Regions from separate parts of the Homo sapiens genome. Here region 1 is linked to region 2. The links come from fine-mapping of genetic effects on gene expression. Tissue or cell type: whole blood. Region 2 holds a variant in brackets; the other region holds the start of a gene. All regions are shown on one strand. Distances are from middle to middle.

What was found. PIP is the estimated chance that this variant, and not a neighbour inherited with it, causes the effect.
Region 1: CD96 starts here. The variant in region 2 is fine-mapped to the expression of CD96 in whole blood (GTEx, PIP 0.98).

The regions. Positions count from the first base shown.
Region 1 is chr3:111,537,834-111,545,609 of GRCh38, reverse strand. It overlaps CD96 (CD96 molecule), which reads right to left and starts at 3,413. Exons shown (of 14, transcript NM_005816.5): 1 at 3,301-3,413; 2 at 208-564. The coding sequence starts at 3,361. It overlaps LOC105374039 (a long non-coding RNA gene), which reads right to left. Exons shown (of 3, transcript XR_001740846.1): 3 at 3,607-3,675.
Region 2 is chr3:112,032,902-112,040,677 of GRCh38, reverse strand. It overlaps TMPRSS7 (transmembrane serine protease 7), which reads right to left and starts at 5,942. Exons shown (of 18, transcript NM_001395507.1): 1 at 5,785-5,942; 2 at 2,357-2,606. The coding sequence starts at 5,832. The variant A/G (reference allele first, on the strand shown) is at 3,827.

The DNA of each region.
Region 1 (7,776 bases), 500 kb after region 2:
TTATTATCGACACTTATCACTGTTGCAAGTTTACATTTATTTACTTAAATGCTGTGGTCACTTCCTGTCTCTCTTATCAGACAGTAGCTCTTTCTGCTCAACCTTTGTATGCTGAGCACCAAGCCTAACCTTGCTTTTCTTAAAATGTACATTTGTTGAATGAGAGAGAGCTGAATGAAAGCACATCCCTCTACCAGTTATGCTTACCGTGTGTCTGAATGAGAAGGTTGTAGATTTTAGTCTGAATGCCCTCTGGATACAGAACAAGCATACACTCGTACCTTCCACTGACTGAACAAGACATATTCCTTAAGTGCAGAGTCCATTTTGACCCATTCTCAGGAGTTTCTGTGAAAGTCACAAGTGACTCACAGGGTCTCCCATAGGCACAGTAGAAGCCGTATTGGGGATGATAGACAGCAATCAGGTCTATCTTATTGGTGACCTTGGACCATTGCATCTGCACGAAGAAGCCTACTGTCTGTGTTTGGCAGGTCAGGTTGACATCAGAGCCAAGTGTAGCATAAACATTTTCTTCTGTGTTGACTGTTTTTTCCCAAACTCCTGAAAAGAAAGAACATGAGCCATGAGTTTAAATAATTCACATAGAATGACGCTTAATTAAAAACCCTAGTCACTTCAGTAAGGTGAGGGGAGCAACTGAGGAAATTTCTCCCTGGCTGCTTTAGGAATAGAGTAGAGCTTGTGTCTCACTCAGATAGAGATGCATGAGACAATATAAATGAGGAGGCATTTACGTAGAGAAGCTAGAGGTAATTACTGACTTCTAAATATTTATCTATGTGTTGGTCTGACCAAAATATAATTGAAGGTTTCAGACTACCTGTGAATAAAATTAAGCCTATTTGAAAATTGAAGCACACCAGCAAACTTAGTATGACGATTCTTCTTACGTTTAATATAATTGGCTTTTTGGGTTATAAAACGACAGCTGAATATAATACACACGTGATGCTTTCTGAAACTGCAAAAATAAATGATATGTGTATAGCAATTTCTTTGAAAAATACATGTTTACAAGGGCCTTTCATATCTTATCTTGTTTAATCCCCCTCACACGCCATAGGTGATGTTGTTAACCCCTTTTTATGAGGAAGAAACTGGGCCACAGAGAGATGAAACAGTATGCTCAAAGTCACACCTCCAGGCCTGGCGCAGTGGCTCACGCCTGTAATCCCAGCACTTTGGGAGGCTGAGGTGGGCAGATCATGAGGTCAAGAGAACCAGACCATCCTGGCCAACACGGCAAAACCCCGTCTCTACTAAAAATACAAAAATTAGCTGGGCGTGGTGGTGCACGCCTGTAGTCCCAGCTACTTGGGAGGCTGAAGCAGGAGAATCGCTTGAACCTGGGAGGCGGAGATTACAGTGAGCCGAAATCATGCCACTGCACTCCAGCCTGGCAACAGAGTGAGACTCCATCTCAAAAAAACGAAAAACGAAACAAAACAAAAAAAGTCACACCTCCAGTAAAAGAATGAATTCAGTTGCCCAGAGTCTGTGGTCTTTCTATAACCCTCATAAGTATAACAGTAAAACTCCAGCCAAGGAAGACAAAGAGACCTTTAGAGACCAAAGAGAACTTTATTTAATTCAGGCATCCAGGCCCACAGCAGACTCATGCCCAAAATGGCTGCTGACTCTGACAAAGAAAGCAGGCTTGCTTATATGTCGTTTGAGGTGGGAAAACAAGGCAGGATACAGGTTTCAGGCAAAGACAGTAAATTATTTAACCCGTGACAATTCTGAGAAAACTTACAATTTAGTTATCTTAACCAGTCAATCTTGAAGCTAGACAGAGATGGGGTAAGGTAAAACAGGAGTTACAGAAATATGTGGGGGTCTGGGGGCAGGCAAGAAGCTTGGAAGGTTGAGATAAGCTCACAGCTGCAACTTGTTAGCAATGCTGGGAGGGGCTACTTAAATTTCTTAGCCTACATATAACTTCTAAGTAACCTATACTTAATGTTAACTATTACCTATGTTATGCTTATTATTTTAAACTTTATTATTACTTATTTTATTTTATTTTCCTTCCACATAACTTCCAAACTGTCTCCCAAATTCAGTCTAGTTGATTAGAGTAAGAAATTTCACTTTCAATATACAAGGATTGAAAGGACCTCATCTAACCTTAGGTAGAGGTTCCACTTAGTATCACCTCTAATCGATGGTCTGAAATACTAGACATAAGTAGAGTCTCTTTCCCATCAGCAGTCTGACTGAGTGATACAGGACACTTAAAATGTGTTAAGCATTGAGACTGTGACATGCCTTCAATAGTGTTGGCCTCAGTTTTAGAATTAACATGGAATCCTGTTACAGAAATGATATATATTATTGTGACAAGTACCACTGAAGCTCACAAAAGGAAAAGATAAAAAGATGACAAGCAACTGAGAAGAAACAAGCCTCTTAAAAGTAAAAGTACTTGACAAATGGGAATTATCATACTTCTGTGGATGCAAAAGTTTGGTAGGCAGAGGTTAGTACAGTTTAATGTAACTTCCTGTGAGCTATCCTTTGCCTGAAAATATGGCTCTGATCCTATCTACAGCATTATATTCCAAATCTCTTTTGATTTAGAAATTCTCCTTAATATTTTCATAGCTATGTCTGAAAAGCACAGTTAATTCTTAAGACACTCAGGCTTACTATGATACTCTCATACTGTGGAATACAGAACTAATCTTGCTTCCTTCTCTTTTTAAATAGGCCCATTAGGCTCTCGTTCCCACTGTCATAAGGATTCCACTTTGTCTCCCAGGTTCATACCTACACATGCCTCATTAAAATTCAACGTGTTTTCAACTCCCAAAGACCTTAGTATTTGGATGAGAAATACTTGTTATATCCAAAAGAAAGAGAGTACTTGAGAGAGAAAAAAGTTAAACAAGGATCTCTGAGCGTTGATGGCTTTGTAATTTTTAATTTTTCCGCAGTTGTTTTGGCTACCATTTGGAGAGCATTTCATTTCCAAGAAACACAATTTGCCAATTACTCCAGAGATCCTGTTAGAAAGGAAATGGGTGAAAATGCCTCAGAGCAGTGGCACAAATGACCCATTCCCTTCTTATTTTTAGTGTTCATTAGTAATCATTTCTAGATTCTAGCATCTCTCTTATACCTGCCGCTTAAATACATAACTGAAACCCTTAGTAATGATTTGTCCTTTGGTGATCAATTTCAGCAGCAGTCACAAGGCATTTTAAATGAACAGAGGCCCCATCCGCCCCTAAAGCGGCCCATCCGACAAGAAGGGACAACTGGAAGTCTTACCCTTGACAAAATGTATCTGGATGATGTAATAGACAGCACAGTATTTCCATTTTTTCTCCATTGTCTTCTGAACACCTTACACCAGCATTTCTGTAATGATCACAAAGTCAATTGATGTTTTCAAGCAAACTCCAGCCACCCACTTCGTGCTAAAAAACCCGAACTCTACCACACACGCCTGGGTCTGTTTATCACTTGGCAAGCCCCCAGGAAATGAAACGTAGACAGGAAAGTAATGTGGTTCAGGACTGAGTATAACGTTCGACAGAACAATGTTGAAATTGTTCTCTGAAATTTGTGTATCACCTTATTTAAGAGACTTTTCAGTATCCAAAGAGTCTCTTATTCAGGATCTCTGTGTCAGTCAAGCTGCGTCTAAAATCCAAACAAAGGATATCACGCAGAGCAGTTGGCAATGTGCTTTTTATACATTTTTTTCAAGAGCACAAAGTCATTTAACAAATGTGAGCTTGGTGTTTTTCATAATAGTTTTTCTGTTCAATCTTAAGATATGTTTTCTTTCCAGAATTGCCCTGGGGTGAAAGAACAAAGAATTAACACATTTAATTTTAATAAAATCTGAAAAGTAACAGGGAATAGTGTCAGCTATCAAACCAAATTTTATTGTCTCTCCTCTTGCAGGGAAATGCACATTTCCTGGGAGTGGAGGAGTGAGGGCTACTTTTCTACCCCTCGTCTGGGAAGACGAGGGAAGGTTGGAGGTCAGATAGGGAAGTCTCCCACCAGGTTGGCTGGAGGCCATTTTTGTTCACCACAGAAGAGTTTATCCATGCCTAAGCCAAAGCAAGGCAGTAACAATCAGAATCCAAAGGCAGAGAATTCCCACCTCAGTGAGCTATTAGGCTTATTACATCTGCCTAGTTACTTCTATTTACAGAGAACCGCAAACAGGTTTCAGGAAAGTGACCCCTTGGTAAAAATGTCTGGCTATTCGTAGAACACGATGACTGTTCCCTGCTATGATTCTCTGATTTAATTGTATTAGTTTTTCAGCCTGAGATAAAATAGGCTGTCATCACCCTCCAACATTAAGAAAACAAGCATTAGACTGAGGACTACTGTAAGTTTGATGGACAAAGAATAACTACAAATAAACATGTGTGTCTTCATACAACCGTATGAATGATTAAAATATCCTGTGACCCTAATCTCATTACTAGAATATACGTACCACCTAGCAAGACCAAAGACAAATGAAAAGGCCAGTTGTAATCCTGAGATGGGAATTCTTTTCAGGTGAGGTGGAGATAATTTTCGTCAGGTTGTCATCATGTATACACCAATCTCTCCTATGCAAGGACTCGTGGTGAATATGGACGATGCTAAGACAGAAGGAAATGCTTTTGCCATTCAGGAGATTAAATTTAGATGGGAGAAGAGAGGTTTTCATGTAAATAAACAAGGGCGACTGTCTTCCTGGACGTCCAGATCACCCCCTATACCACCACTGCAAATACTTGCCATGATAATTGCCATACTTATTCAGTATTCCTCAGCTAATGATTTCTTGCAGAATTTAGATGTAGTTACTGCTTGCCTAGTCCAGTGCTCCCCAAACCTTTATTATCACCCCTTCCCAACTTCCCATGAGTTTCAGGTCACTGGGGATATTGGGTCAGGTAGTACTGACAGTGATTTTCCAGGGAAGGCCTGGGAACTCAAAGTCCTTTATAGAAGGTCAGGAAGAGACATAACTGCTCTGGGTAGCTTCATCTCTTCCCATTGCCCCTGGAAATTCTAGTAAATCAAAGTTTTATGAAGCATAGCAGCAAAAATAGTCCTGGAGATGCACTATGAAGATCCTGATTTGCACGTTGGTGTCCCTATTAAATCAGGACACATTACAAGCCTGGAGAAGGGATTCTATGATCTCGTTCCATTTTTCATATTAAGAGGAATTTACCTAAGTAGAAACCAATTCAAATATACATTTATTGAATTCTCTAAGAACAATACCCTCTTTGGGGTATTTAGACTTCTCCTATCTTTTATTGTATTAAAGTGAAACAGTTGTTCCAAAAAAGTCTGTAAACTCAGAAACATGGAAATGGTCGTTTATTTTCCAGTGCTACAGACTTACTTTCAGTAGAATTCTTGCCTCTCATTGGGGTTGGGCTACCTGAGCCATGCATTTAGTGGCTATACGGCAAATCTGTCTTCTGTGTATTGTTCAGGGCTTAGTTAATGATTCTTATATCTAGAAACTTCTATGGCCTGAAGCCATCAGATTTGATTAATTTTTCTTTGGGATCCACACAGGTTCTGAAAGTATAACAATTTCAGATGCATGGCCACAGAATATTAACTGAACGCTTACACTTCGGGTGTCCTGCAGCTGCAAGACCCAGGCAACAGCCCCTCCATGGCTGTTTGCATGCAGCAGGTGGCAGCAACACTCCGCAGACTGGCACGGCTATCCCAGGTGATGGGAATTGCCCCCACCGCCTTTCAATCCTGGTAATATTTTCTAAAGGCTCTTTCAGCATGGGGATAGACAGGCGTTCTCTATACTTAAAAATAACTCTTCTATGGAAGTCATGTCAATCTCTTCTATTATCCTCCCTACCCACCATATCCCGATTGCACAGGGTTTCTTCTGCCTTATAGTCTGCTGCACATAAGGAGAAAACAGAAGCAAGTCAGTTTCACACACAAAAAGAAATCGTGATCTTCTTGAACTGCAGAGGCAAATTCAATTATTTACAAAGAGAAGCAGGAACACACATTATTTCTGCTAAAGGCAAGCCATGATTGTGTGTTTTGGACAAACTTTTTAAATGCTCTAGCTAAACACACTCAGTGAGAAAAGGACATTTTCAGAAACAGGAAGTTGAGCAAAAGGTAAACTTACTTTTGTGGTTTTCATAATGGTTAACTCAAATATTACTTACTTATCTTTAAACACTTACTAAAAATAAAAATGGGAGTGCTATACTTTTGCATGTTTTCCAAAATGCTTAGAAAACATGATGGTTAAGGTTTCAGTTAATTAAAAAATACTTGCTGTATGTCAATTCTTAAGAGATTACTGAAGAGGCATAGTTCTAGATAATTTTAAAATACCAAAGATAAAACACAACCCTCAGTTTTAAGGCAGTTACCATTTAGCTGGGAGGAAGCATCCATGTGCACCAAAAAAGTCAAGCAGCATAAAGCACAGCCCAAATGAGAAGGTAGGGCAGGATTTTAGCAAAGGGGGAGTTATCTTAGGGGTAGAGTGGGCCAAGAGCATATGAAGTATGGAATCTAAACTTGGCCCTATAGGCGTCAGACTGGTAGAAACCGCAAGCTAAGTCATTCCAGGCAGAAGAAACAGGAAGAGCCAACACTTGACAGTGTTGAAGTTCAAGGCCATTTAGTGAGTGGGCTATTCCGGTTTAGCAGAGGCTGTATTAGGGGACTTGGAGCAGACAAAGCTGTCCAAGAGCTTTGAATTCTAGGCTAAAGGGTGTGGGTTTTTTCCTCATGTCAGAGAGACTCCCTAAAGATATTTCAGCATATGAGTCATATATTTAAAGTAACATTTTAAAAGGATAAATTGGGTGGGCGTGTGTGAAATGAATGGAAGAAAGGAGAACAGAGAAACAGAAGACTTGTTAGGAGTTTATGTTTCTTTGGGCACTTTAGGATGAGAATGGGCTGACTGGCATGGCGAAGCATGATGAAAGCAAGGTCATTACCAATAAAGAGGCTGTAAGGTGAGATGTACGATTGGGCATGGAATCAAAATATCCTATAAAGTTTCATGCCTCAGAATTAGGAAAAAGGGAAAACAAACAGAGTTGGATTCTTGCTGGAAGAACCACCCTAATCAAGGAGCAGTTATTAAATGATCAATAGATTTTTGATGGATGTGAAAGATAACCTATTATGGCACAGCTAGCAGTCCTGCCTTCATCAGAGTAGAGTTCTTTTGGTTTTCACTCAAATTTTATGAGTTTTATGAGTTAGCATGTAATGAAAAAGAATTTCATGAGACTTTCAGCATAGCAATCTGTTTTATCACCATTTTCACCATGCCGAATTCCATCCATGAAAGACTAATTTTAGTTTAATACTTCTTTTTCAGTTACAACATCAATATCTGCTCATTACATGAAACCATTTTAAATGGATAAGAAAGAAAATTTAAATGGATAAGAAAGAATTCTAACTGCCCAAAGACTACCAAGACCTATATGGTGTATATTTGTCTAGATTTCTTCATAAACATGTACATATAAAGAAAATGAATTTTTACCACATGCATGTTAAAAATTCATTTTATAGATGTACAAAAAATAATTTTAGGTAAGATATATATAAAATTTCCACCTGGCATTTTACTTTCAGAAATAAAATTATATAATTCAATTAGATAATTATAATAAGTAATCTTTGAATATTTATTTTGAGTAGCAAACTGAAACAAGGAGAGAGAGAGAGAGATGGAGAAAGAGACAGAGACAGAGATAT
Region 2 (7,776 bases):
CTTTATGTAAAAATGCTAGGACAGTGCAAATGTGTCAGCTGGGGAACAGCAGAGAAACCACGGCAAATAAGCTTCTTTGTTCTGGGTTGGGGTTGTGTGTGTTTGTCTTAATGGCCCATTGACTTGACTTCCCCACCAGTTTCCTCAAGGACAGAGATCTTATCTTGCTCACCACTCTGCTCCCATGCCTACCCCAGGACCCAACACATAATGAACAGTCTCAAGATGTATCAAATGAATGTTCGGGAACCAGTTCATGAACCCTTCTCTGGATGCCATCCCTGGGCAATTTGGATGTCTTTCTTCTGTCATCACAAGATAATCACTTAAGCAAAAAAACTCACACCTTCTCTCTAGCACTGAACTCTGAACTTTCTGAAAGTAGAAAATGCATCTGTGAGCTTTCTGAAGGTAGGAGATGCATCGTGGTGTGTTTGATGCCCTACATTCTGCCAAGCAAATCACAAGTGATCAATTTATGTGCATATAAGTGACCTGAACCGTTCAAGACAGTATTCCTTCATTCTTTGCCTGAAAGTCTTCCCTTCCAATCAGATTTTCATATCTCTGAGAGTACATCTAGGAAAACTGTTTCTCTACCCATAACACTTCTGTCACCAAATGTGGGGGTGGGGGCAGGGGTTCCGCACACCAAGCAACTCTCCAATTCATTGCAGACACCAACTGGATGTCCAATGATTCAATTCAATTCTGACACCAGCTACCAAGAGTTCGTGTCAGACCCCAAAGGTTAAAGGCACATTCTTACTAGACTGCCCCCCAATGCAGATCCCAATCAGAAGTAGTAGGTCCCCAGGCTACCCACACTGCTGTCCAAATTGGCTACAAATTGGCTGTTCTCATAAAGCCCTCAGGTTTCATAATTTGCTAAAATGACTCACAGAACTCAGAGAAACACTTTACTTACTATTCCTTCTTTATTATAAAGGATACAGATGAGCAGCCAGATGAAGAAGTACCTACAGCGAGGTCCAGAAGGGTCTCTAGAGTAGGAGCTTCTGTCCCTGTGGAGTTGGAGCATGCCACCCTCCCAGCAACTGGATATGTTCACCAACCTGGAAGCTCCTTGGTTTTTACAGAGGTCAGTTTTAAATCATTGTGCATTCGTGATTAAGCTCAATCTTCAGCCCCCTCTTGAAAGTTACAATCCTCTAAGCATGTGGTTGGTTTCTCTGGTTACCTAGGGGCTTTCAGCCACCAGTCACTTTGTTAATATACAAAAAGACATTCTTAGAAGCTCTGTGTTAGGATCTAAGGACTACAATCAAATATTATAACAAAATGTATGTATATAAACCAAAAGATGCTCCTATCACTCCTATCATTCAGGAAGTTACAGAATGTTAGAAGCTCTGAGCCAGAAATCTAGGGCACAGAATAACTATGTATTTCACATTATATCATGGTGCATGATTTTGTATCAAATACATTAACATGTATAGATGGCAACTCCGATACAAGTCAACAAAGGCTATACTTGCAGTGTTGCATAAGTGAGAACTCTATAGGAAAGGGCTTAGTTATGACACCTGTCCAAAAGGATCAGTCAGATCAACAAACACGTAATAACAGAGGAGAGAAAGATGCATGTGCAAAATGGAGCTCAGGGAGCCGGAAATTCAAGGTTGCCTAGAAACAGGTGGTGGGTGGAATGAGGAAATGAAACAGCTTAGCATTCCATTAATTTTTTTAAAGCTACAAATGCATTACATTTCTGAACCAGTCAAAATCTCCTGAGCATCCTTCTCAGCTCTTCCCATCCTATCCCCAATCTCCTCCTCTTGCTCTCCTATGGGGAGAAAATGGTGTTGGTAAAAAAAAAAAAGAAATGAGAAAGAGAATTCTGGCTTATGTCTCCTTAAAATATCAACACCAGGCCGGGCACCATGGTTCACGCCTGTAATCCTAGCACTTTGGAAGGCCAAGGTGGGAGGATTGTTTGAGTACAGGAGTTTGGGACCAGCCTGGGCATCATAGTGAGAACTCTGTCTCTACAACAAACTTTAAAAGTTAGCCAGTTAGCCCAGGTGTGCTGGCATAGACCTGTGGTCTCAGCTACTCGGGAGGCTGAGGCAGCAGGATTGCTTGAGCCCAGGAGTTCAAGGTTGCAGTGAGCTGTGATTGTGCCACTACACTCCAGCCTGGGTGACAGAGCAAGACCTTGTCTCAAAACAAAATAATAAAAAACCATCAACACCAGTTTTGGAAATGGTGTATCCATATTGGAAAAAGGAAAATCCCATCAGAAATACCTATGGCAGATTAGGGCTGCATTGCTAATGCTGGACTCATACCATAAGCCCTAACCCCAAAGAAACACAGATTTTTAACTTACTGATATACAGCCACAGAAGTGTCCAGGCTATGACTGCTAGGATGAATAAAAATACTGTGAAGAGAATGATTTTATTTTGTACATTCCAAAAGGGAACTTTTTTCTTGGATTGCTTCTTGGGTTTGGCTTTGCCAATGGGTCTTTGTGGTGGTCGTCTTCCTGGCAATGGTAGTCGTCTCCCTGGCAACGGTGGTCGTCTCACTGGCAGCTTCTTTTGGGCACTGACCACTTGGACTGAGATATTGGATATCTTCAAAAAAAAGAAATAAGATATGTTACCAAGTAGAAGTAGACAGGATCTTAAATGAAACTACCCAGTCAGGAGATGTTGGTACTAAAAGGCCTAAATATGACTATTTAAGCATTCATATTTATGTAAGTATATCAAATTATTTACATAAGTATAATAACTTGATTTGCACCAAGTCACAAAATTAAGATCAGATAAACTAGACATTACTGTATACAAACCCTAGTGAAATGGTTTCTATTGGGGGAACCAGCCCCCGATATTTCAATGTAGGTTCTTTTCTATTTTCCCTAAGTGTCGGCCGGTCTGAGAAATAAAGAGAAAGAGTACAAAAGAGAGAAATTTTAAAGCTGGGTGTCCGGGGAAGACATCACATGTCGGCAGGTTCCATGATGCCCCCTCAGCCACAAAACCAGCAAGTTTTTATTAGCGATTTTCAAAGGGGAGGTAGTGTATGAATAGGGTGTGGGCCACAGAGATCACGTGCTTCAAAGGCAATAAAATATCACAAGGCAGAAGGTCAGAGCAAGATCACAAGGTCAGGGTGAAACTAGCATTGCTAATGAAGGTCCACATCCTGCTGGGCACACATTGTCATTGATAAACATCTTAGCAGGAAACAGGGTTCAAGAGCAGAGAACTGGTCTGACTAGAATTCGCCAACCTGGAATTTCCTAATCCTAGCAAGCCTGGGGGTGCTGCAGGAGACTAGGGTGTGTTTCATCCCTTATCTGCAACTGCATAAGGCAGACACTCCTAGACGGCCATTTTAGAGGTCTCTTCCTGGGAATGCTTTCTTTTCCCAGGGCTGTTAATTATTAATATTCCTTACTGGGGAAAGAATTTAGCGATATTTCTCTTACCCATTTTTGGCAATAAGAGAAATATGGCTCTGTCCTGCATGGCAGTCAGACCCAATGGTTATCTCCCTTGTTCCCTGAACATTGCTGTTATCCTGTTCTTTTTTCAAGGTGCCCAGATTTCATATTGTTCAAACACACATGCTTTACGAACAATTTGTGCAGTTAACGCAATCATCACAGGGTCCTGAGGCTACATACATCCTCAGTTTACAAAGATGACGGGATTAAGAGATTAAAGTAAAGACAGTCATAGGAAATTATGAGAGTATTGATTGGGGAAATGATAAATGTCCATGAACTCTTCACAATTTATGTTCAGAGACTGCAGTAAAGACAGGCGTAAGAAATTATGAAAGT[A/G]TTAATTTAGGGAACCAATAAATGTCCGTGAAATCTTCACAATTTATGTTCTTCTGCCATGGCTTCAGCAATTCCCTCCATTCAGGGTCGCTGACTTCCCGCAACAGTTTCTAGGTTCTTTCCTCAACTCTCCAACTCTGTTGAATAGATGCTGTGGAGGAGAGGCCTGAATTTCATGGGGTAAAGTAGATTAGAGGACTTGAAGGTTAGGAGGTTAAGGTTAAGATTCTATGTGGGTAGAATCATGTGTGTACACAGCCCCTCCCCCCTCCTTTTTTTTTTTTTGACAGAGTTTTGCTCTTATTGACCAGGCTGGAGTGCAATGGAGTGATCTTGGCTCACTGCAACCTCTGCCTCATGGGTTCCAGCGATTCCCCTGCCTCAGCATCCCAAGTAGCTGGGATTACAGGCACTCACCACCACACCTGGCTAATTCTGTATTTGTAGTAGAGATGCGGTTTCACCATGTTGGTCAGGTTGGTCTTGAACTCTTGACCTCAGGTGATCCACCCACCTTGGCCTCCCAAAGTGCTGGGATTCCAGGTGTGAGCCACTATGCCTGTCCACAGTCCTTTTAGTATATGTGTGTGTTTCACATGTTTGTATTATATTGTTTTTCTCTCACAATCAATTATTTCTGGGCTGATGCAGGATTGAAAATAAGAAGATAAGTGAGTTCCCCACAGAAATGAATTGATTTCCTAGTTACAGCTTCATGACTGGGTGGTAGGAAGGAAAAGTAAAGGTGATATGATAATTTGCATAGATTGTACAAATTTGTGCAATTTGTAACTGCACAAATTGTTCGTAAAGCATGTGTGTTTACATACGGTTGTAGGGTTGTGGGTTTATAGGAATTAAATATGTTTGTTTTGCCATTGCCAGCCGCTGCCATTGCCAGCCACAGTTTCTCAATTATAAATGAAATAATTATTTAAAAGTAAATGGAAGAATGAAATAGAACACTCATTAGATTAGAAAATTGTTGGTTTAAGTGTATTGATGTGCATAGTGTTATGTGCAAGAGTAAAAAATACATTATTTAATTGTTTCCCTTCCTCCTCTTTTATTTTCTTGTCTACCCTCTGCTATTTGATGCTGTGAATTCTTTAATAATGTATTCAAGAGTTTAGCTTCATTTAAGGAGAGATTTATACAAGTCAGGGTAACTAAACTCCAGAGACGAAATAGCTTTTAACCACACATTCTTTTAAAGGCAACAATATGGAATGCCAATGCCAAAGAAATAATCTCTCTTTTGCACTGTCCTTAAGAGTTCTCTCCTTCTCTTTTCCTCTCCCTCACTCTTCTCTTCAAAATTCATGCCCTCCAGTCTTTAATCTTGCCAATTAATGGGATAATACGTGGCCACGTACACTCTGAATTATTCATGGCCCCTTCATTCTTTTTGCCAAACACCTTGTCAACCCCTGGAGTGAAGTGTTGCTTGTATCCTTTCTGGTGAAATTGAACTAGACCAGACATCATTTAATGTGGTGTCCTGCAGGAATGAGGACTGGGTTTCTAAAGAGAGAAACATTCCATTGTAGAATGAGTTGTCGATGGTATCAAGCTACTTTCAAGTGCTCCCCCAAAAGAAATAAAGAAACACGCAGAAATGCCAGTACATGTTGAACTGACAAAGCCAAGTTTGGATCTTTTAAGTGCAGAAACACATTATAGGCAGTCTCAGTTAGCACTGATTAAATTTTAAAATGGAATTTGTGTAGAGATCAGTACAATTTCCCTGGAGTTTTAGAAAAACGGCTACAAATCAATTGCCAAGTACAGCACTTTATAATAAGCTCACATTTGTAAAACCCATTAATTACCATAAGAAGATAAAATATTTTATTATTGTTTCCTTTATGTTTATAAGGTCATACAATCTCATTTTACTAACAGGGTCAACAATAAATGGCATTCAAGTAAGAGAAAGTTTCTCACCCTGTACTTACTTTCAGGTCAGCAGGTGCGGCTGAAACATCGCTGTTTTCTTTGTCCATTATTAGGCGTTTTGTGTGTGATCATCCAGGGGTGTCTCAAAGCCAGTTTTTGCCCCTTATATGCTCTCTTGAGAAGAATTGAGAGAACCGTCACCGCATTCAAGCTAGCTTTCAGAGGAGTGGAATCAATTTACCTCCACCGGGTTCAGTTCAGAAACTGAAGCCGCCTCATTGCTATATTGTAAATGTTAAAGGGACCTAGCACTCAGCTTTGCACCCCAAACTCAAGGATTCTCAATGTAACTTTCATAGGAGTCAGGCCTCTCAGAGTACAGCCAGCCTCAAGGCAAGGTTTTCTTATAAGAAACACAATCCTACAATCCAGTAACATTTAAAAATCATTATAATTTTTTTCTTGCATCTCCTAAAGAATATGAAGAGGTCTAATTTACAACCCTCAGCACCACATCTGAGAAGTCCTCACACCTCATTTCTCTTGCGTGGCATCTCTTGCCTGCTCCAGGAGACTCACTCTTCAGTCCTGCTCTCAACTCTCCAGCCATACTCTCTGAGAACTCATAATCCAAAGGGACTTTTTTCCATTTAGCTCCCCCTACTTCTTGCAGTCAGTCCTCAGTAAACCTGGGGCCCTTTCTGCTGTAAAGCCCCTGTTTCCATCTCTCCCATACTTCCCAATGTCAATCTGAATTAGATCCATGGTGGGAAGAATAATCCAATCCTGAGGGGCAGTGTCAGAATTTCTCTTAGCAGACGGGGAGAAAAAGGCAGGGATTGCTGGAACCTCATCACCCTGTGGGCACTGGGTGTCAACAGAAAGCTGATCTGTCACGCTTTAAAGGAGAAACACTGTTCTGCTGATCCAGACACAAACTTCAGCATCATTCACGGGCTGTGCATATGGCAAGTGAGAAACTGCCTGCTGAAAGTGGGGAAAGATTAGTTGAGTTGCTTCATACCTGAAATTTGATCTAACTTGGGGAAGATGAGACAGAATAACAAAAAAAAAAAAAAAAAAAAAAAAAGAATTAAGTCATGTACAAATTCGCCTCTTGGGTTTTGTTATTTATTATTCACATTGATGAAATTATTAATAATGGTTTAGACTTTATAATATTACTTTTAATGGCTCATCTTTCCAGTATTATTTCTCTACCTATTTCTAGAACTAACTCATATTTCACCAATATAAGTAAAATTTGTATACTTATCGGTGGCCATTGACAAAGACTCTCTTCTTGACCAAAGTGTTGTCAGGTTACTCTGAGCTCTCTTTTCAACTAGACCTTGTCCTTGGGCCTTGTCTTTGGCCCATCTGGTCAGTTTAGCAGGAATCCCCCCGCCTTGATATCTGATCACCCTTGATTTTGCTTTCTTTTTCTTTTCTTTCTTTCTTTCTTTCTTTTTTTTTTTTTTTTTTTTTTTGATTCAAGAGTGGCCTTGAAATACCCTTGATATCTGATCAAGTTCTTTATCCCCTACCCTTGATATGTAAGTCCTTGGCTGCCTGTAACAAGAATCCTGATTGGTCAGTTTAGCAAGGATGCCCCTTGGTGTTTCCCCTTAGTAATTTTCCAACCATGGACCCCCTCACTCTCTTCATTGACTACTAATCCCCAGCTTTCTTTGCTGTATTTGGAACTGAGTTCAGCTCTATATCGAATTCACTTTCTCCCGTTGCAACAGTGCTGAAGAAAATCTGTCTTTACAGCCTTTAACTAGTGTCCCCCCATCCTTTTTTCCCTTTCACACCACCAAGTGTGAAAAGTGGCAGCAAAATATCAGGAGGCTGTGTTAAATGTACCAAATTTAAAAGCAATCATAAAACCAACCAAAGGCTGCTTTTTCACTATCATCATGCCAGCAATTCTAAATAATGTCAGTGACAAAATACTCCTCTCTAAAAAAAAAAAAAAAAAAAAAATTGCCATGAGTTCTAAACAATCACTGCCACTACAACTGTTTGAATAATACTTATTTAAGTGT